Linked DNA regions of Homo sapiens. The protein of the gene in region 1 purifies or fractionates together with the protein of each later gene. This does not show direct contact. Each region holds a gene or a part of one and is shown in the gene's direction. Other genes may lie near its edges. The genes, in order: CYRIB, CDK19 and RAB3IL1.

Region 1 (8,060 bases):
GGCCCTTCCACTACTTGAGGATGCAGCGAGGAGGCAGAAATCTGCAGCTGGGAAGAGGACCCCCACCAGAATCTGACCATGCCGGCACCCCGATCTTGGACTTCCAGACTCCAGAACTGCAAGAAGGAAACTTCTGTCGTTTATAAGCCATGCAGTCTGTGGTGCTTTGTCGCAGAAGCCCTAATGGACTAAGATGTACCCGGTTTTCCCCATGGGTCCATGTTCTGAAAGATTTTCTACACCGTATAGTAACAACAACGATGGCGACAATGACAACAATAACAATAGCTGTCACCGATGAGGCACCTTCCGGGTGAATGTCACCTATGCTGTCCCACCCAGTCCCCCCCACAGTCCTGAGATGACGGTGACGCAGCATCTCCGCCCCCATTTTGCCTGATGAGGAAACGCAAGGCGTAGAGAGGCTCAGTAGTTTTCCAAGCCCCTGCAGCCAATAGGAACTAAAGGCAGGAGTTGAATTCAGCTCTCTCTAAATTGAGCCTGGTTTTTCCACTATGTTACACTCTTCTTCAGAAACACAAATTAATGAGCGGGCTGTGGTGGCTCATGCCTGTAATCCCACTTTAGGAGTCTGAGGCAGGAGGATTGCTTGAGGTCAGGAGTTCGAGACTAGCCTGGGCAACATATTGGAACCCCGTCTCTACCGAAAAACAAACAAACAAACAAAAAACCCTCAAAAAACACAAAAAGCACCAATTAAGTTATAATAATAACAATAATATTCAAACTACATTATTCAATCCTAAATCCTTTTACTTTCCATTGTGAAAGGATTAGTTACATAAACCGGCTGCTCTTAGTTACCGCACTCTGTTGCTATGATTCTGACATATTGGTTCATTTCTGCAATGCTATTGTGGATATACTGAAATACTGAAAATATACTTAAGGTTCTGCTCACTAGCTTTTTATCCGTCAAGTTATTCTTTCCCTAAAATTCAGGTGAAATTCATATGACACATAGCTAACCATTTTAAAGTGAACAATTGGGTGGCATGTGGTACATTCACTAATGTGCAACTACCACACTTGATTTAATTCCAAAATATTTTTGTCACCCCCAAAAGAAGCCCTATATCCATTAAGCAGTTACTCCCCATTCTCCCCTCCTCCCAGCCCCAGGAAACAATCACTTATCAGCCTTTGAAGCCCGAGGCTCTGCATCTCCCGGTAAAGACCCTGTTCCAACTTGAGGGTTAGCTCTGTGTGTCCCGGGAAGTCATTCCACCTCACTGAGTGGGATTCCCAGCCTAAAGGGGCTAGCTGAGCCTCTGAAGCATCTTCCGAGGGCTGTGCTCCAGTGCCAGGACGGCATTCCTTAGTGAGCTTGGGCGTAGTTTTCCCTTTCGGTTCCCAATGGCCAGAGGTGTGAGGAGACTGAAAAGCAGGTGTGAGGAGACTAATGCCGCTGAGTTTGCTTTTATCACGATGGGATGTGGAGTGGGCTTAATTGCAAAATACTAACAGCAGGACAAAAACTGAGTCTCTGTGTCTCCCAACTTTACCTTCTGTTACCTTTTGTACATAATAGCACTCTTGCAAATGCTCAGCAGGGAAATGCATTTTGGAGGAATATTTTTGAGGGACTTTTGCATATATGAAGGAAATAGCTATTTTTTTTTTTTTGCTTGAAAGCTGTGTGGACCACATGTGCTATGAAAGCACAGCCTTCTTTTTTAATTTTTAATTTTTAAAATCTTGGTTTTTCAAGATTCTTTGCTTGGCCAATGAAAGCACCAGATTCTAATGTTGAAAGTAAAATGTGCATGCTGCTTTCCAGTTATAAAGCATGAAAAACTCATTTTCTTACATAGTCCTCTCAACAACAGAAGATAATGTTATTATTCCCACTTTACAGATAAGAACATTCAAGAAGTCAGAGGTTAAATGACTTGCCCAGAATTGCACAGCTGAAAATGGCAGGCAGGCTTTCCCAACTCCAAAGACAGTGCTGTCTATAGGATGCTGGACTTCTGCCTACCATTGTCAGGGTTGACATCCCGGGGAAACAGAGCAGTCACTACAGAATTGCCAGAGGTTTCCCCGGGTATTATTCCCAGGTTCCCAATGGCTTGAATTGGTCAAACCTATCAGGATCAGAGTGAGCCTAGGCTCATGCTCTCAGCCTCACTGTATCCAGTGAATGGAGACTTTCTCCTCTGAGACACACACATCAGAGTTAGACTCTCCATCCCACATATTTCAGAATTCAGTAGAGTGCAGGCTAGCAGGCATCCAAGCCCTGCCCTCACCTTCATCTATTCTTCCCTGCTTCCTGGACCCCCAAATTTGCATTCCATGTTACGCTCACATCAAACTATTTACAGATCCCAAGCTTGCCTGAAAGTTCCTTACCTCATGCCTTTAACAATTATTATGGTAGGCCAGGCGCAGTGGCTTGAGCCTGTAATCCTAGCACTTTGGGAGGCTGAGGCGGGTGGAACGCTTGAGTTCAGGAGTTTGAGACCAGCCTGGGCAACATGGCAAAATCTTGTCATCACAGAACAATACAAAAATTAGGCTGGGTGCGGTTTTTGGGAGGCTGAGGTGGGCGGACCGCCTGAGGTTGGGAGTTCGAGACCAGCCTGGCCAACATGGTGAAACTCCACCTCTACTAAAAATACAAAAATGAGCCAGGCGTGGTGGTGCACATCTGTAATCCCAGCTACTTGGGAGGCTGAGGCATGAGAATTGCTTGAACCCGGGAGGCAGAGATTGCAGTGAGCCAAAATTGCGCCACCGCATTCCAGCCTGGGTGACAAAGTGAGACCCTGCCTCAAAAAAAAAAAAAAAAAAAAAGGTAAATTGTAACAGTTATGATAATAGTAACAACAATGGTGATTGCTTTCTCCTGGGTCCTATCCATATTAGGTTCTATATATTCGCTATTTCATTTAACCCTCACCATAACCTAACGAAGTCATTATTATCCATTCCATTTCACAGATGAACAAACTGAGGCTGAGAGTGGCTAAGTGCTTGGGCTCTGGAGTCAGACAATCTAGGTACATACCCAGCTCCACCGCTGTCTAATCTGTGTGATCTTGGGCAAATCTCATCTCTCTTCCAGCTGCAGTATCTTAATGCATGACACTGGGCCATGATAAACCTGCTTCATGGGCCTGCACACACTTGGCACCTGCTTAGTACTTTATAAATGTTCAGAATTGTTAATGCTCATTTTATAAGCGGCTCAGCTCTGCCTGCTTCCAAACCCTTTTCCTGCTTCTCCTCAAGGTCATAGTTCAGGACCCAGTGTTTCCCCACCTACTTCTCAGCCCCCACAGCAAGGTGGACATTAGTTCCCTTCCTTTAGGAATGAAGGCACTGGCGCTCGGGTAAGCTTAGAGAGCAGTCCAGGGAGTACTGCTGAAATGGCACCATCTCAGGGTCCCCAGCTCCGAGAACTGGGCCTGGCCAAGAGAAGGCGCAAGGCACCTTTGTTAAAGAATTGGCGGGCTGGGTGTGGTGGTTTATGCCTGTAATCCCCACACTTTGGGAGGCGGAGGCAGGGAGGATCCCTTGAGCCCAGGAGAAACAGGCCAGCCAGGGCAACACAGGGAGACCCACCTCTACAAAAATCTATAAAAATTAGCTGAGCATGGTGGTGCATACCCGTGGTCCCAGCAACTCGGGAGGCTGAGGTGGGAGGATCGCTTGAGCCCAGGAATTTGAGGCTGCAGTGAGCTATCGCATCACTGCGCTACCTAGCCTGGGAAACAGAGCAAAATCCTGTCTTAGACAAAAAAAAAAAAAAGAAAGAAAAAAGAAAAGAAATGGAACAACTGGCTCCTAATCAGGTAACTCAGCACTGAGTATGATGTGAGCACACTCCAACCCCCCTATAGCTGGAGGTGGAGGTGGAAAGACAATGGAAGCCTTTGATGTAACCCTTTTGATACCCTGCTAGAGGACAGCAGAAAGATACTTGAGAGAATGTTGTCTATCTTCCCGAGAAATTTCTGGTTGAATGTCAAGATAATGATAGGATGGGCTTCTGGGCCAGGGGAGCAAGGCAGAGGGAAGGAGAGTATCAGTTTCCTAGGCATGTCCTGTTACAGGGAGAAAAACACAGTATTTTCCATTCTAGATCAGGGGAAAGATGAGGTCTCCCATAATACCTGAAACTGGAATTATGGCGAGGAGCTTTTTATGTGGGAATTTCTGTACTAAATTTAAAGTCCTTGGAGAACCGCTTAGGGTAGCACCGACAGCCCGCACCGTCCCCTCACCCCGCTTTATTTTTCCTCTGGCACAGCACTTAGCACCATAGGACCCATCAGATATTTACGGCCTGTCCCCGCTGCCCCTCCCGGGCAGGGATTTTGTTTTGGTTCGCAGCTGCAGCTCCAGGGCCTAGAACAGCCCGGGCACTTAGTAGGCCCAGTAAGTATCTGCGGGAGGGCTGAATGGGTGCGTGGACAGCATTCCTCTCACTGACCCCGCTGCGAGGTGAGCCAGGCAGGGGCTGTCACCATTCCTGAAGTCCAGGTGAGGGGGAAGCGACCCAGGGATGGGAACCTGGCCGGCCTGAAGGTCTGGAGACCGGGGTTCGAGCCCAAGCCCTGCCTGACAGGCAGTGACCTTGGGGGTCACTCTTGCGCCTCTCGGAGCCGGGTTTCCTCCTCGCACAATGAGGGCGATGACCCCCAATCGCAGCGCGCCCCGCGGTGACTTGCCCAAGGTCACCACCGTCCCGGGCCCGTGGCGCCCCGGCTCGGGAGGACACGGGCCAGGCGGGCGCGGGGTTCTGGGGTGGGGGCCGGCGCGGGGCGGTCCCGGGGCGCGGCGCGCGCTGACGCCGGGGCCCCGCGATGCGGCGGGGACTGGGCGCGGGGGGAGGCGCGTCGCGAGGCGAGCGTCCTCCTTTTGTGCGAGCGCCGGCGGCTCGGCTTCTCGAAGGTAAACAGCGCTTCCTCTTCCTCCTCGCCGCGCCTCTTCCTTTTATAGTTATTTCTCGCCTGGCACTCGCCCGGGCTGCTGCTGCTGCTGCTGCTGCCGCCGCGGCGGGGGCAGCTCGCAAACCTGTGGCGGTGACGTGAGCCCCGCCAACCCGGAAACGGCGGCGGCGGCGGCACCGGAGGCTCCGAGGCTCCTGCGCTCCCGCGCCGCGCTCCCCTCGCCCGCCCGGGCCGCCAGGTACGTGCCGGGGCTCTGAAGGCGCCGCCGCCCGGCCGGCCCGCGCGCGCGCCCCTGGATCCGATTTGCCCCCGGAGAGGGCGCGGGGTGCGGGGCGCGCGCGTGATGGGTGCGGGGAGAGGCGGAGGTACCATCCGGGCCGCCGGGCCGGGCGCTGCGGCGGGTGGACAGGGGGCGCCGCCGTGGTGGGGGCGTCCGGGCCGGCGGGCGCGGGGGTCCCGGGGGAGGCGCCTCGAGTGCGCGGGGGGCGGCGGGCGGACGCGAGGGGAGCGCGCAGCGGGGCCGCCGCCCGGGTCCACCCAGCTGCGGAGCCGGCGCCTTGTGCGCCTCGAGGCAGGGGGCGCTCGGGTCGGGGTGGCTGGTCCCTGGCAGACCCTTCCTGCGAGCCGGGTGTCGGTGCGGGGACTGACCCCGGGAGCAGCGCTGGCCCCCGGCCACCTCCCATCAGGGGCTTGGAAGACCAGTCGCATTGGATTTGAGGAACTAGAGGGGGTGAACAAAATCTCCACTGGCCTCAAGACTTCCTCCTGGGGTAGCCACCCGCCTGTGTTTAAAGAGCACTTCCTCTTCGCCTTTTATCTTTTCATTATCTTTCTTTTTAAATGGAAGTTCAGTGTTAGCGGGTGGGTGCCCTTGCAGCCTGCAGGGCTTTCCTGGGGCTGTGTACACACACACTGGGGTTGGGAAAAACCTGTGTGTCCTTTGAAACGTGTGTCCTGTGTCAGGAGTGGAACGAAGGAGGAATCGAGGTCTTACCATGCTGGAGCTACTTGGAGTGTGCCTTTGCTACCCACCCTGCTGCAAGAGGTGGAGGGGTGCGGAGGGATAGAGCTGGGGCTGCGGGGGAGTGTCACATGCACTTTGCAGCTATGTTTAATTCCTGGCCCTGCCGCTTACTAGCTGTGTGACCTTGGGCAAGTCGCTTACCCTCTCTGAGTCTTAGGGTCCCGTCTGTGAAATGGGCTGCTGCGAGTGGGGCCTTGAGAAAACGAGCGTAGATTTCCTGGCCTGCAGGGGGCGCAGTGATAGAAAGTGTCATTGCCAGTCACCTTGAATTTCTGCATCCCCAGCACCTAGAAAGGGTGCGTTGAAGCACGTGGGAAGCACCCCATAGATAATTGTGAGATGAACGAGTGGGTGGTGAATTTTGAGAGGTGAGTCGGTGTGCTTCCACATTTTGGCTTCCTTGCCCTGTAACATCCATCCAGGATCTCCAGGGAGCAATTTTGCTATCTGGGTTGGATGGACTCCTCCCCTCTCTGAGGAAGACCATCTTGTGAAAATACTGACTCCCTTGTGAAAAAGGGCTTAAACTCTGACTTTGAGACTCTCCCATTCTTGGAAGATTGCACTGGGGGAAAAATAAAAAGAAGGCGTCATTTTGATTGCCACCGCCAGGTGACTGGCTGAGGCCAACAGCCAAGACTGAGCCAGGGCTGACGTCTGGGATGGTTTCCCAGGCCTGGGGTTCCTGTAATGTGGGGGAAGCCCGGAAGAGGTGACTTTTCTACCTTGGTCGGCATGCAGAAGTGGTCAGCTGGCCTGAGTTTTCTTCCTGAGGAGGCACATTGGAATTTGCACTCTAGATCCTTGCTGGGCTCACAGCACGGAGAAGGGCAGAGTGTGTGATGCAGGAGGCTGAAGTGGGTTCCAGCACAGGGAGACTTGGAAATGGTTTTCAGATAAAGGCCAATATATGTTTCTGCCCTTCACTTTGGGAGATTTTCAAGTAATTTTGCTGTCTCTGACAGCCACCCCTTCTCCTTTCTCAGCTCCCAAAGTCTTCTGTGTGCCTCTCTTAGGATCCTTAGCTATGTGGGTCCCCCAACTCCCGACCCCCGTAAGTGCTACTATTATTTTTAAGAGACAGTGCAGACCCTTCTGTGCAGCAGCGTGCTGCAGTTTGAGCATGTGCAGATTCATTTTGTTTGTGTTTTGACAGGGTCTCACGCATTGCTGAGGTTGAAGTAGTGCAGAAGTAGCGTGATCATGTCTTACTGCAACCTTGACCTCTCAGGCTCAAGCCATCCTCCTACCTCAGCCTCCCAAGTAGCTGGGACCACGGGTGTGCACCACCATGCCCAACTAATTTTTTAATGTTTTGTAGAGATGGGGTCTCTCCATGTTGCCCGAACTCCTGGGCTCAAGGGATCCTCGCTGCCTTAGCCTCCCAAAGTGCTGGGATTACAGGTGTGAGCCACTGTGCCCGGCCCAGATTCATTTTTAATGACTGAACTGTGGAGTGGCCAGGGTTACCTGTAAAGGAGAGCTAGGGTTCTCGTTTTCCTGAGACTTAGAGAGAGTGCAGGACTTGGCCCAAGACCTTCAGTCAGGAAGGGGCAGATTGAGGGTCCTTGCCTAAGTCTTCAGCCTGCAGAGCTCACTTTTCTTCTTGCAGACGCTGAGTGGTCTTTGTGCTTCCTCTGGCACCTGACCTGCTGCCTGGCCCATGCAGGAAACAGTACGTGTCTTTTGACAGAATGGGCAGAAGAATGATGGGTTCCCCTTTGCTCTTTGAGGATGTACATTCTTTTTCCATCTCAAGGTCAGCGCACTGGCCTGCAGTTGACCTTGAAATGGTTGTCCCGTGGTTCCTCCCTATGTGGAATCCTGGTCCCTGACAGCTCTTATATCAGGATCCAGAGACCCATGCACACGAAGAACAGGAAGGACGCCCGAGGGACGCGGGTGCCAGGAGGTTGTGGCCTCACCCGTGCTCAGCATTACTGCCATCTCGTTAATTGAAGAGACCACGATTCATGTGGCTTTGGCGGTCTGGGACTTGGCTGTCTTCAGCAAAATCGTCCACCACTGAGCATTGTAAAGGAAGTGTTGTATAGCTGAAAATTCAGATTTTAAGTATGAATTTTATCAGACACACCTTCACTATCTCTTGGCTG
Region 2 (7,102 bases), on another chromosome or scaffold:
CTAATATTTGGTAATGTGTTTCTTCTTATTCAGAAAAAACAATGACTTAAACACATACCTTATAGGAAAGCCAATCCTGGAGCTTATCATTAAGAAATATCAATTGGATGAGTGTTCCCAGTGATGTGTGACTGTGCGTGTCCTTGCAGGTATGCCAACAGTAGCCTCATAAAGTACATGGAGAAACACAAGGTCAAGCCTGACAGCAAAGTGTTCCTCTTGGTAGGTGCTTCTCTCCCAGACTAAAATCTGATTCTCAGCACAAATCTCGCCTTCTATTTACTCAGCTATTCCTCCTCTTTAGAAACAAAAGAAATTAGTGGATGCTGGGGTAAAATTAAATATTTTTTTTGTTGAGATGTCACCCTGTCTTTCAGCCTTCACTTTAAATGATTTATCAGCAGAAAATGAACTTTATAAGGGCTTTAATGCTGATGATTTCTGCCAATTTCACATAAAAGTATGTAGTATGCATAATCTGCAGTGAGCTACACCAAATGTATTTTATATTAATCCTGTTACACAGTAATACAAAAGACAAGGTGTTGACTTGTAAATAACCTTTTCATGTGCTGTACATTTCCTGTGTGTCACTCTAGCTTCAGAAACTCCTGACCATGGATCCAACCAAGAGAATTACCTCGGAGCAAGCTCTGCAGGATCCCTATTTTCAGGAGGACCCTTTGCCAACATTAGAGTATGTATCCTGTCTTTTCTGTGTCCTTTGCTCCAGGCTGAGGAGGCTGCATGGTGGTTGAAAGCAAGGGAAGCACTTGCTACTGAAGTATTTAACTTTTTCAATGATACCACCTAAAGACTGCTCAAGAGCAAGCTTCCACATTTTGAAACAGGCAAAGCTGCAGAGAGGGATGAATGAAAACAAGTATTTTAGGAACGACCATTTGTCAGTTTTACAGATGAAAACTAAAGCTGATAACAGATAAGACCTTTACAGACCAATTGGCCAGATCAGAAATTCAGCCAAACCAGTAGGCAACAGAAGTTAATCTGTCTTTCAGAGCATGTCCACTGCACTACAAAACCTCTCTACTCCTTCATCCTTCTTAACCCCAAGTATAGACTTTGTGTTTTCATCTATAAGAGGTGTAGTTTTTCTTGTTAAGGCAAATACAAATTAAGTTATTTTTGGCGCTAATGAAGTTAGTATAGAGAAACTTCTGTGTCCTATATGTCAACTAGCTAGCAGCAGTCAAGATTTGAACACTAGCCACAGATGAAGAGTAGGAAATAAGTGAAGAAAAACAAATTGGAATTTTAAATTAACAAGGTAATGATATTACAGATTTTAGATCATGATATGTTTTTTCTTTTTAATGATTTTTAGTGTATTTGCCGGCTGCCAGATTCCATACCCCAAACGAGAATTCCTTAATGAAGATGATCCTGAAGAAAAAGGTGACAAGGTATAAACTGCACGGTATACTTTCACTTCCAAAGAGCAAGGGAGGCAAAAAGATAGTTTAGGTATCGTTCCATAATTCCTATACATTTAACCACCTTTTCTAATATTTAATTAAATTTGAATGTATCTTATTTTCTGTGGAAGTTTGGGGATTGTAAAGGTACCTTGAAGTTTGAAGTATGACCAGCTCACAGATACCTGAGCTTCCGGTGTGTGTTACAGCCAGTTCTACTCCCGGATTCCCACTTCTTGCTCTTTCTGTTTGTTTGGTGTCACTACCACCCCTTTATGCAGGCTGGCTTTTGCTAGCATCACTCTGTTCTTTCGTCTTAACTGGATATATTGGCTCACTCTCCAGACCGCTCTGCCTTTCCAGAATCACGATTGAAAAGATTTCTTCTAGCTGTTTTAATGAGCTATAAGAAATGTATTTCTAATGTGCCTGTGGCCTTCAGTGAGATGTCTGTGACTGATTTGGAGGATCACTGTGCAGTCTAAATGAACTTCAGGGAAAGAGTCCTGTTTGGGGCTCAGCGCCTTGCCCTTTGGGAACACTGTGTTCCCTGGCTGCTCCATTCTCCAGTCCTCCCCATCACTCTAGTGTCCCACATAGATTGCTCCCCCAGGTTGGTCAGCAGCCACATGTGCATATCAAATAATTAAAGAAAGCTCCTGTTAATTTGGTTTCATACCAAGCTTGCTTTTTTCCCCTTAAAAGAATCAGCAACAGCAGCAGAACCAGCATCAGCAGCCCACAGCCCCTCCACAGCAGGCAGCAGCCCCTCCACAGGCGCCCCCACCACAGCAGAACAGCACCCAGACCAACGGGACCGCAGGTGGGGCTGGGGCCGGGGTCGGGGGCACCGGAGCAGGGTTGCAGCACAGCCAGGACTCCAGCCTGAACCAGGTGCCTCCAAACAAGAAGCCACGGCTAGGGCCTTCAGGCGCAAACTCAGGTGGACCTGTGATGCCCTCGGATTATCAGGTACTCCCTGAATGTCTAATGTTCATATGCTTTATGAAGTGGGGAAAAGATTTATCCTAGATCCTTTTAGAGTTAAGTAACACTTAACTCTTACATTTGACTGTGCAATCCTGTTTCTAGGGCATTCTATGAAGAGGAAGATTTTCATCATATTTCATGTAATTGTAAGATATCTCGTATTCTGACTTGTTTATCCTGACACCCGAGGAGAGGAAGGTAGGGAGGCCAGTGCCCCCATCCTTAAAGAAAATTTCATCATTTTACCCTTATAGCTGCCTTAGCAGTTCTGGTGTATCAGAAAAAGATACGTAGATACGCAGTTGAAAAGGGAAGGGGAGTGGTGTCTTACTTTGGACAAAATTAATTGCATTCTTTAGAAAGATATGCTCTTTCTGGGAGGAAGTAGCTACATAGATAAAGAAGAGAAGGGGGCTAAGACTGAGGCTTTTCTGAAATAACTGTTAAGTCTCATTAGAAATAATTTTGAGACTAGAAAATACTTTTTGTTATTCAGATAAAAAGAGAACACCAATTGCAGTGCTAATTCAGGAAATTAAAGGAGCTAAGTCTAAGGATTGGTATTTGGAGAGAGGTAAAAATACCCATTGTGATAACCATAGGAAATTTTGAAAAAAAAATTTTTTTTCAAGGTAGTAACAAGTTAAGAAACCATCTAGGAAGAAGGGAAAACTTAAGTTTTTTGTTTGTTTGTTTTTTTGTTTGTTTTAAGTTTAGAACCACAGTCCCTCCGGGAACTCTTGCAGATGAGTGCATAGGATAGAGATAATAGAAAACAAAACCTCTGGCAAGGGAACCATAAACTCACTGATAAGGAACTGCAATAAAGAGAAACTTTAACAAGAAAGACATAACAAATAGCTGCATAAACTGCCTTCACATTTTGAATAGCTCAACAAACTAATGTGTTTCCACACAACTACTCTGAAAAACTTCTCTTCAGAATATCCCTGCAAGCAGAAGAGTACATAATACTTCCACTTGGTTCCAATTAAACAAATTTAGGCTTCAGTTTGATCTACTAAAAACAGCTTGCTAGCTGGGTAGTAGCATGAGCATATTTGAATTTTGTTATAAAATCTGTTTCCCCTCCATTATATGAGCAACAAATGCTTACTATATACTGGTTCATCTTTGTGTGTCTGATTGAATTATATTAACCTGTGTTAAAAAATAATAATAATTTGCCTAAACACTTGTTAAAGTTGGTAAGGCAGACTTTATTCAAGGCGGGGCCATGTTAGTGCATAAAGGGACCACTGCAACAGGGGCTGGCAGTTGGGGAGGAAGACTGGACTCAATTCAGACTCCTACATGACAAGTGGAGAGGTATAGCCAAAGAGCAGGGTGGGGATCAGTGGATGGAAAGTTACCAAGAGGAAACATCCAGGATAAAAGGTCTCTGGCTAAACTGACTGCATAGTATTAGGCTGAAGGGAGGCCTGGGTAATAAGCTTTTAAAGGTGGGGGATTTTTGCCAAGCCAACTTAGCAAGATTCTTGCTCTAACAGGATTCTCCAAGGACAGAGGAAAGCCCAAGGTCAGGCCTAGTCAAGCAGAAGACTCACAGAGCTCCCTCCAACACGACCCTGTAAAACTTCCCTCCAGCCTCTTTGCAGACAACACCTCCTCTACTGTGCTGCCCCAGGCAACAACATGTTTTCATACCTTCTGTAATAAACCTGCCTTTCTTTACCCAAAACCATCTTGGTTAAAACCTTGACTGCCTGAGAGCAGCCTGACTGCAGTTTTTGTCAAAGGAAAGAGTCTTTGTCACCCAATTGTAGTCAATTATAGACAGATTACTGTATTTCTTTTTTTCCCCAAATTCAAACATTCTTTGAAATGCTTTTCTATGTCCATATTGTTCTGTTGACTTAAAAATAAACCTTTCATAGCTGAGTCCTGATGTCTGTGGAAAAAAATAATAAACCTTCCAACATATCTATTAAATGAATAGATACAGCTATTTAGTTGGAGAGACTGGCATGAGGGGCAGTCAGGTGTCCCATTACACCGAACTTGCAACTCATACACCATCTAGGGGCCAAGGGAAAAACTTTCCTTTCACTCTCTGAAAGTTCGCTGAAAAATCAACTCACAAAAGGCAGGTTAATTGGAGAAAATGTCATGGGTGTGACTAGCTAGGGCCAGTGTCTCAGGCAGTCAAGGTTTTTACTAAGAGTTCTGGGTAAAGAAAGGCAGATTTATTACAGAATGTATGAAAACATGTTGTTGCAACAGACAGCATAGCAGAGGGAGGGGCTGTCTGCAAAGAGCAGGGGCTGGAAGGAAGTTTTACAGGGTCTTGCGGGAGGGAGCTATGTGCCAAATGAGGTCATTGTGCCCACCAGTTGTTTGTGACTAGCAGTGTCTCAGAACAATTGTTCATTGTTTTTCCCCACCTGGAGCCCCTTCCTCCTTGTTGCTTACTTATCAGGACAGAAAGGCATACAACTTTGATACCAGTGGGCTGAGGGAGGTCCCCAGATGCTGGTGGGACCTCAACCCCACCCTGTGTCCAGGCTCCTAACACCATCGGGAGAAGGAATTAAAGGATGAGTCAAAAATAGCAAAAGTATGGAGATTTATTGCAGAGGGAAAAGTACACAACTCAAGAAAGGGGAGTGTGGGTATACGCAAGAGAGAATCTGGCTGGGGACAGTGGCTCATGCCTGTAATCCCAACACTTTGGGAGGCTGAGGCGGGTGGATCACCTGAGGTCAGGAGTTCAAGACCATCCTGGCCAACATGGCAAAACCTCGTCTCTACTAAAAATATAAAAATTAGCTGGTTGTGGTGGTGCAAGCCTGTAATCCCAACTACTTGGGAGGCTGAGGCAGGATAATTGCTTGAACCTGGGAGGCAGAGGTGCAGTGAGCCGAGATCGCGCCACTGCACTCCAGCCTGGGTGACAGAGTGAGACTCCATCTGAAAAAAAATAAATGAATAGAGAGTCATGCAGTCTGGTTTGGGTTTCTATCTTTATGGGTTTCTTTAACCAAAGGGTGGAATATTCATGAAAATTCCTGGAAAAAGGGGGAGATTTCTTGGAACTGTGGTGCCACCCATTTTTATGCCAAATATGGATGTTCTTGGAACTGTCATGGTGCTGGTGAGTGTGTGATTTAGAATGTTAATGAGCATATAATGATGTCCTAGGTTTTTAAGCAGAAATTCAAAGTGTGTTTCATGTAGTCTTTTTTTTTTTTTTTTTTTTTTTTTTTTTGAGACAGAGTCTCACTGTGTCACCCAGGCTGGAGTGCGGTGACGTGATCTTGGCTCACTACAACCTCCACCTCCTGGGTTCAAGTGATTCTCATGCCTCAGCCTCCCAAGTAGCTGAGACTACAGGCATGTATCACCACTCCCGGCTAATTTGTGTGTGTGTGTGTGTGTGTGTGTGTGTGTGTGTGTGTGTGTATATATATATAAATAATTTTATTATTATTATTATTTTTTTAAGTAAAGACAGGGTTTCGCCATGTTGGTCAGGCTGGTCTCAAACTCCTGACCTCAAGTCATCCACCTTCCTTGGCCTCCTAAAGTGTTGGGACTACAGGCGTGAGCCACTGTGCCCGGCCAGAAATTGTCCATTTTTATGGTTTAGGGTCAACAAAGTGTAGACAGCCATGTAGAAACATGATTGGACAGAAGGGGTATGATCTGATGCTAATAGACTGAGGGGGAAACCCAACATGGCCTGTCTAGGTTCCTGTTGGTCTCTCTAAGCGTGCATTCCTGCCTCTGGGTGTGGGGCAGGACCCCCTCTGGGACAGGAGTCTCATGACCTACAGTCAGACAGGATATGCCAGATCATTTCTTTATGTCCAGTTTTTACACAGAAAGGTAGGGGGAAGTTAGAGTAATATTTTTAGGTTTCACAGCTGGTGTTGGGGAAGTGGGGTTCTGGTTTCTATGGCTTGCCTTAGGGAAGGGGAATTCTAGTTTCTATGGCTGGCTCTGAGGAGAATGGGACTGTGAGACAAGAGGGCACAAAAAGGTCAGAGAAAAACTTTTGCTCCTGAGGCCTTCATTTTGGGGTATTGTTTTCTGTGCCCCAACAGTTCCATTAGTAGAGTTTCAAGGCTTTTGAGCTGCTTCATCAATGTATTGTAAGCAAGTACAATTAGCGCTTTGAAAAGCGGGACATTGGCTTATTTTCTGTCTAAAAAACCCTTTGTCATTAAAAAAGCTATGTTACAGCACATTAGATTCTTACATGTTTACATTATACTTTATGGCAAAATTGCCCCAAATAACGTATGAGTTGAAAGAACATTTTTCATAATAAACTTCAAAATAAAACACGTAATTAAAATTTGGAATTTTTAAAGACTTCTGTAACCAATGTGACTATTCAGTTGTGCAACTTAGGAAGGGGCAAAACTAAGTTTTGTTTTGTTTTTTTTTTTTTGAGATGGAGTCTCCCTCTGTCGCCCAGGCTAGAGTGCAGTGGCGCCAATCTTGACTCACTACAACTTCTGACTCCTGGGTTCAAGCGATTCTCCTGCCTCAGCCTCCCGAGTAGCTGGAACTACAGGGACCCACCACCATGCCTGGCTAATTTTTGTATTTTTAGTAGAGATGGGGTTTCACCATGTTGGCCAGACTGGTCTTGAACTCCTGACCTCAGGTGATCTGCCCAGCTCAGCCTCCCAAAGTGCTGGGATTAC
Region 3 (7,102 bases), on another chromosome or scaffold:
AGCATGGGCCCTGAACTCCAAACCCAGAGGCAGCTCCAGTCTGACTTTAGGTGCCCCTCCAAACTGGGTTGTCCCCCTTCCGATTCCCCACAGTTTCACACATTCATAGTTTTGGGTGCCAAGCCTGCTCCAAGGTGACGAGGTGAGGACAGCGTCTTGAGTACTTCTGTATCTAACATGGTGCTGGACACTTGGGACTTGGTCAGCAGAAGCCAGCGTTCAAGTTTCTGCATGACACTGTTCCAGCCCCCTGGTCTCAGTTTCCCCAGAGACGGGGCTCATCATACCTATGGCTAGAGAGGGCCAGGCATTGATGGATGGCCCAGGAATGAGATGAGACCACTCCAACCTCCCAGGGGTTGGGGAGCATGTTTTTGCGGCAGGCAGGGCTGTAGGGGCCATCAACTGGCTGTGTGATCCTGAGCAAGTCACTTCACTGCCCTGGGCCTTGGCTATTCTAAGGGCATGGATCTGTGGGCTCCTGCCTGTAAGGCCCAAGTCACAGGGGACTAGAGGCCGTGAGACAAGAGTCTGAAGTATGGCCCGAGGGCTCCAGGTCAGGCACACAGGCCTCTTCATTGGGAAGGGGTTGTATAACCCTCACTGTTGCTGCTCCCTGGAAGCCCTCCGTGATCTAACTGCCTACTCTACCCCTCAACAGGTGGAGATCTTTCCTGCTGTTCCTTAATCAGGACATGGGTGTTGGGGGCAGACATCCTCATTAGAATCCTGCTTGTCCTAGACCCTCCGAGCTCTGCACATGATTTATGCCCAATAGGTCTTTGGAAATGAGGTAGCGGGAGGGAGATGCAAATCAAAATAGGATATGGTAAGAAGGGGGCTGCCTGGTCGTGCAGATTGGATGGATCATGGCTGGTGGGGTGCCTGGCACATAATGGGTGCTCAGTATACACACTAGCTATTGGAGGTCTTCGGTGTCAATTCTTGGACTGAATGGGCAGGGTCGCCACAGGCGCATTTGAGGATGTACTGCGTGCCCAGCCCTGTAGAAGAGTAGTGAGATGCGCCCCCTCCTAGGCCCTGTGCTGGCTCCCATGGAGAGACAGGGCTGGATTCCCCCGCCAGGGGTGGGCTGGACTGGCCTGGTGGCCTGGGGCTATGGCCGGCGGAGGCGTGGCCTGACTCACCTGCTTTAGGTGTTCTGATCTGCTTCCCATCCCCAGCTGTTCCTGACCTTCTCCCCCACTCCTCCTCCATGGTCTCTACTAGGACATGCTGTTGTGCCCTTCTCCCTACTCTGGCTCCCCTTCCCCTGTGGCCCAGGCCCACCTTGGTTCCCACCTGTCCCTTTGTCCCCTCCTTGACTTGAGCTCATTGGTTCCTGGCCCAATTCAGTGAGACTCATGACGATCTCTTTCATCCCCGGGTCCCAGACACTCTTCGGCTCTGGTGTCCAACACTCTCGTCCTTTCTGGCTCTCAAGCCCTTGTCCTCCCTGACAGCCCCTCATCCAGGCTCAGGCTGCAGCTGCTCCCCGAAACCAGTGCCACTCGACAGCGTCACCCCATCCTGCCTATTCCCCCTCAGCTGCCTACGGGACGTGCCACTTCCCAGATGCCTCAGCCACCCACTTTCCTGTCCCTGAAAGACCCCCTCCCAGTTCCTCACTCCCAGCATGGGTACCGCTGTTCTCAGCTTTCACCTTTTCCTTAGTTTTGAATTATCTTAATTATTGTTATTGCTTTTTCCTGCCCCCCCATCCAGCCCCTGTTCCTCCCACAATTCCCCCTTCCCATCTTTGTTTCTGTGTGTCCCCTCTGCTGTCCCCTCTTAGCCCAGGTCCTGCCTGGCTGTACAGCATTCTTGGGTGGCACCTCCAGTACTTGGGCGCTGTCTCAGACTTCCTCAAACCCCATCTGCCTCTTGCCTCACTTCTCCAAAACCGCCATTCATCCCCTTTCCTCTGGGTGACAGGCCACGTGATACGCTATGCCTGTACTCTGCATTCAGTTCCCATCCTGCCACTTCCTTGCTGTGCATTCTGGCCAGGTCACCATCCCTCTCTGAACCTCAGGGGCCTCATCTGGAAACCAGGTGGAGGAGCGCATCTCCCTGCAATTGTCCCGAGCTTCCAGGCCATGACACCTGTGGAGTGGTGGGCTGGCGTGGATGTGGCCTAGCGCTTGGGAACCTGACATGCTTGTGGGTTTGGGGCTGAAGACTTGGCCGCTCTCTAGGGGAGCCAAGCTTTGCTGGGCTTGCAGGCTGGCCTGAGAGCTGGCCCACCAACCCTTTCCTGGGACTCCCTTGGTCCCTGGATGTTAATCACATGGCTGTGAGCCTCCGTCCCCTCAGTGTCACCGCAAAGGCTGAGCGTGAATCTGAACAGGCCCCTGTGCCAAGGCACCGCCCCGGGGAGCCAGGCCCTGGGTCGGGGTTTCTGCAGCCTCCCTAGAGGCCTGGGCCCTGGCAGCCCGCTGAGTGGTCCCAGTGTGCCCTCCCAGCCGTCTCCTTCGTCCAGTTTCAGAACCACCCTTGCTGTCCCCTCCCCTGCTTATTGAATGAATCCATTGTGCCCATGACCAACAGGGGTCTTTAGTTCCAGGAGGTAACTGGACAGGGTCATCTTGGGCACTGGTTGAGGAATAGGCTGGTCTGGCCACTGGCCAGGCCCTGCTGGCTTGGGGACACTGAGAGACCGAGGGCCACGGAGTCTAGGTCTCCTTCTTATTTTGTGGGTCGGGGCAAGAGCCCTGCTGGCCCTCCTAGGGTGGGCCTGGTGGGGTGAGGATTGTGGTTACTGCATTTTCTTTTGGTTGTGTGTTTCCTGGGGAAGTGACCCGTGGGGCCTTTCCTGTATGAACTGCCTGGGCCTCTCGGCAGTGGGAGCTGGCTTTGGGATGGGGGATGTTGGCTGGGTGCCCCATCTACCTCTGACCTTGACTCCTACCCTCTGAACAGGCTCCTTTCCAGAGGCATCTGTGGCTCATCTCAGATGCTGGGCTCTGTTTCTGCAGGGAACGGGGACTGAGGAGGTTTGTACAGAGAGCGGTGGACCCGGACTGAGGAGGGTAGGGACGCTGGGCAGCAGAACATTAAGTGGTCCCTGCTTGCCCCACGACTGAGTTCACCACTGACTTGGGTGTTCACAGCCAGGTTTTCAGGCCTCTGGTCTGGGAGGCTAAAGTGTGTGTGAGATTGGAGATTCTGGCTTGGGCTGGACCCGAGGAGCCCAGGGTCCCTTCTTTGAAATTTCTGAGTCTCAGGAGTTGGCCTTGCAGCCTGGAAATGAGGAGGAAGAGGGTCTGCAGATTCTGGCTACCCTCCAAGGGCAGGTCAGGCCCTTCTTCCCTCCTGCTCCTGCCACCTTTGGCGTTGGGGAGTTGGTGGCTACTGGGTGGTCCCACTGTTCCCATGTTCCCACACTTCTTGCCATTGGGATTTGGCCTTGGGCTCTTCTACTGGGGGTGATGGGAAGGATGTCACAGACTCTGTCACAGGCCTCCTGGACCACTGTTTCCTCTGGCTACAAAATTGGGCCCTGTCCCCACTCTGCCCCACAAGGCAAAAATGAGAGCCTGTTGGGAAAATGGTGAGGTCAGCCAGCCACACCTCCAGCCTATGTGCTTGGGACCAGCAGGAGAGAGAGTTAGTCTTTCACTGTGGCCAGAGGCCCAGACCACACTGGTGGATGAAGCTCGGCCCCCATGGGAGGGCCGGCAGCCTGGTTCTCCTCGGTCAGGGCATAGGCAATTGCAAGAGTCCTCTGTCCTGTCCTGTGCTGTCACCTCTTGCCCTTGGCCTGCAGTGAGCAGCCCCCAGCCCAGCCTGAGTGACTATGGCCATCCTGTCCTACCTGAGGACTTGGGCCATGATGATTAAGGTGGGGACACATATCCATCACTCCATCAACAGTGTCTGTGCCAGACAGGGCTCTCAATACCCTTGTTCGGGGAAGTCTTCTTGGCAAGGGTCCACAGGCCTCCAGTTTAAGCTGTGGGACCCAGAGCCCAGGCAGGCTTCGTGAGTGTCTCAGCCAAACATGGCTGTGGATTGAACATGATTCACCCAGCACCAGGTCAGGACTGCTCTTAGAGCTCTTGATTCTTAGAGCACCTCCTGCAGGATTTCAGCTCCTATCCCTCAGGTGCAGAAGCAGGTTCAGAAAATTTCAGTAGCATTCTCAGGGGCTCATGTGTACCCCAGGTCAGAGGCTGACATGGACCCCAGGCTTGCCCCATCTGGCCTGTTCTCTCTGCCACAGCTCCCCCTGCCCAGGCCCTGCCTTCTGGAAAGGGGGTTTCTGGGCCTGCGCAGAGTCTGAGAAGCCAGTTCGGGCCAGAATTGGGTCAGATTTCCCTACTGCAGCCAAAGAGGAGCCTCCGAGTCTCCCTGGGCCCAGCAGCGCTTTATCTTGAAGCAGATGCGCCGATTCCAACACTCACACTCCGCACCCACCTGCCCTTCCCCTGCAGCGGGGAAGCTTTGGGCCTGGGCTTGAAGACCTGGCCACCTGTCCCAGCACTGTCACTGACCAGCTGCGTGACCCCTGACAAGTCCCTTCACTCTGTGAGCCTCCGTCCCCTCATCTGTAGAATGGGACAATACCACGAGTGCTGTTGAGAGAGTTTTATGTTTGTTTGTTTGTTTTGAGACAGAGTTTCGCTCTGTCACCCAGGCTGGAGTGCAGTGGCACAATCTTGGCCCGGCTAATTTTTGTATTTTTAGCAGAGATGGGGTTTCACCATGTTGACCAGGCTGGTCTCGAACTCTTGACCTCAGGTGATCCACCTGCCTCAGCCTCCCAAAGTGCTGGGATTACAGGCGTGAGCCACTGCACCCAGCTGCTGTTGAGAGAATTTTAAAGGAGACAGCGTGGTCAGAGACCTGTGGAAGAGTCTGGCAGAGTGAGTCCCCAGGGCACAGACCCCAGCCCAGGGCTCCGCCATAGCTCTCAGGCTGCGGGGAACCCTTGCCAACAAGACTTCCCCAAACAGGAGTATTAGGAGAGAGCCCTGTCTGGCATAGACACTGTTGATGGAGTGATGGATATGTGTCCCCACCTTAATCCTCAAGACCCACATCCCTGCCAGGCAGGACCCAGCTTGAGGAGCCTTGAGGCCACACTCTGGGCCGGTTCCAGAGCAGAGGGCAGGTGGGGCTGGGCAGCTGGACCGGGCTGTGTGAAGGGACTCATTGCTGGAAGTGGGCTCCTTGCAGGAGTCTCTGGGGGCCCATTTTCTGTGTGTTAACCAAGGGAGAAACTGAGGCTCAGGGGCTGCTTGGTGACCTTCCCAAGGTCCTGAGGACAGGGAGGGGAGACTGGTCCACAGACTTGCCTCTCACTCCTCCCTCTGCCTCAGCCGTCCTGAGTCCCACTTTCTCCTTGGCCTTGCCTTCCCCCTCTGGTGCAGCCTCCCTGAGCCCCTCCCCCCAACTTCCCTCACTGATATCAGTGGCCCGCCCAGCCCCCCATCCCCAGCCCTGGTTGCTGCGGCTCAGAAGCTGCTGGCTCAGGAGCCTCCAGCTTTTGCTGAGTGAGCGAGTCCAGAGGTGCTGTCTTGGCACAAAACACCGCTGGCCGGGCCCTCGCCCTCCCTTCCCTCTCCAGGGTCCACTTTGGAGTGGAGAGTGTGGGTGGGGGCGGAATGAGGCCTCACACCACCTCCAGGGTCTTCAGCTTCAGGGAAGGGAGGGTCCTGAGGCCCAGAGAAGGGGGTGTTTGCCTGAGGTCACAAGGCAGGCCAGGGGAGAGCTGGGACTGCTCCCCACCAAGTCCAGGGGGACAGGAAGTGGGTCTGTCTTGTCCAAGCTGTTTGCAGAATCTTCCTGCCTCAGCCCTGCCTGCCCTGGCCTCATCCTTCCTCTCTGGTCCACCCTGAAAGGGGCAGAATTCGCATTAACTGTATCAGTGAAGGCAGCTCCTGCTTGAGTGCATCCGAGGTGTCAAGGTTTTACCCACACCTCCTCTGATCATTCAGTGACCTTTGAGGTAGGGCCATTGGAATAGGCTTCACTTAATACAAGTGGGACTCAACCCTGATGCATTTACAGTCACCTGTTAGACAAAGACGCTGACCACCTACTGTGTGCTGAGCACCTACTGCATGTGCCAAACACAGCCCTCAGCCCTGGGCTGGAAGGGGTGGTTGACAAAGAGTAATAAGCCTCTTGCCCCAAGAGACTTTGTGCTTGGACATTTGCCCTTGTAACAACACTGATGATAGCTGGTAGGGTCCCAGTTTTCAGATGGAAAGGCTGAGGCTCAAGTGGCAGGCACATTGCCCCGGGGCGGTTTCTGGACTCAGCTCTCCAGGCCTCAGGACCCCACCCTGAACCTGCTGATACCCTTGTTTGTCTCCAGCCCACCCCAGCCAGACCAGGGCCTCCCGCCGCCCCTTGCAGCTGTCCCGGTCCCCTGGAAGAGCACGGACCCCTGCCAAGGCCACAGGGAGTCCCCAGGAGCCCTGGTGGAGACCTCTGCAGGGGAGGAGGCCCAAGGCCAGGAGGGCCCCGCAGCCGCCCAGCTGGACGTGTTGCGCCTGCGCAGCTCTTCCATGGAGATCCGAGAGAAGGGCTCCGAGTTCCTGAAGGAGGAGCTGCACAGAGCGCAGAAGGTGGGTGCCTGCAGTAGGCTGGGGGGTCTTCGGTGGGGAGAAGTCAGGTTGGGAGAGCTGTGGGCTCTCATCAGGTGCCCAGAGATGTGCCCAAGGGAGAGGGATGTGCCCTCACCGAGGCCAGCTGCTGGCCAGGCCTGTACTGGGCGCACCGATGGTCACCCGTCTTGACTGCAAACGTGCCCTGAGCTCTGATGAACTGGCAGGCAGGGCTTCAGCTTCATGCTGTGGCTAAACGGAAAAAGCATCACAAACTGTCAGGCACCAGAGGAAATAAACTCTGAGCCCCACATAAAATGACGAGGGGATGGAACCTGGTCCGGTGGGCCTGGTCCCTCCCGTGCCAGGCCTGGGGATGCTGAGGTGCTCAAGTGCCTGCCTCTTTTCCTCCAGGAGCTGAAGCTAAAGGACGAGGAATGTGAGCGGCTGTCCAAGGTGCGGGAGCAGCTAGAACAGGAGCTGGAAGAGCTGACGGCCAGCCTGTTTGAGGTACACCGGCTGGGCGCGGGAACAACTTGGGGAAT

The links.
Region 2: the proteins of CYRIB (region 1) and CDK19 purify together in Homo sapiens (affinity purification with mass spectrometry; 3 studies listed by BioGRID and IntAct, with this or other methods). This does not show direct contact.
Region 3: the proteins of CYRIB (region 1) and RAB3IL1 purify together in Homo sapiens (affinity purification with mass spectrometry; 2 studies listed by BioGRID and IntAct, with this or other methods). This does not show direct contact.

Annotation. Positions count from the first base shown.
Region 1 is NC_000008.11:130,013,470-130,021,529, reverse strand, and holds the start of CYRIB (CYFIP-related Rac1 interactor B), read left to right. Parts: upstream 1-4,969; 5' UTR 4,970-5,160; intron 5,161-8,060. UniProt on the Homo sapiens protein: Negatively regulates RAC1 signaling and RAC1-driven cytoskeletal remodeling. Regulates chemotaxis, cell migration and epithelial polarization by controlling the polarity, plasticity, duration and extent of protrusions.
Region 2 is NC_000006.12:110,616,410-110,623,511, reverse strand, and holds part of CDK19 (cyclin-dependent kinase 19), read left to right. Parts: intron 1-33; coding exon of another isoform or gene 34-124; exon of another isoform or gene 125-143; intron 144-149; coding exon 150-222; intron 223-599; coding exon 600-697; intron 698-1,345; coding exon 1,346-1,424; intron 1,425-2,141; coding exon 2,142-2,408; intron 2,409-7,102.
Region 3 is NC_000011.10:61,907,530-61,914,631, reverse strand, and holds part of RAB3IL1 (guanine nucleotide exchange factor for Rab-3A), read left to right. Parts: intron 1-6,325; coding exon 6,326-6,578; intron 6,579-6,971; coding exon 6,972-7,067; intron 7,068-7,102. UniProt on the Homo sapiens protein: Guanine nucleotide exchange factor (GEF) which may activate RAB3A, a GTPase that regulates synaptic vesicle exocytosis. Promotes the exchange of GDP to GTP, converting inactive GDP-bound Rab proteins into their active GTP-bound form.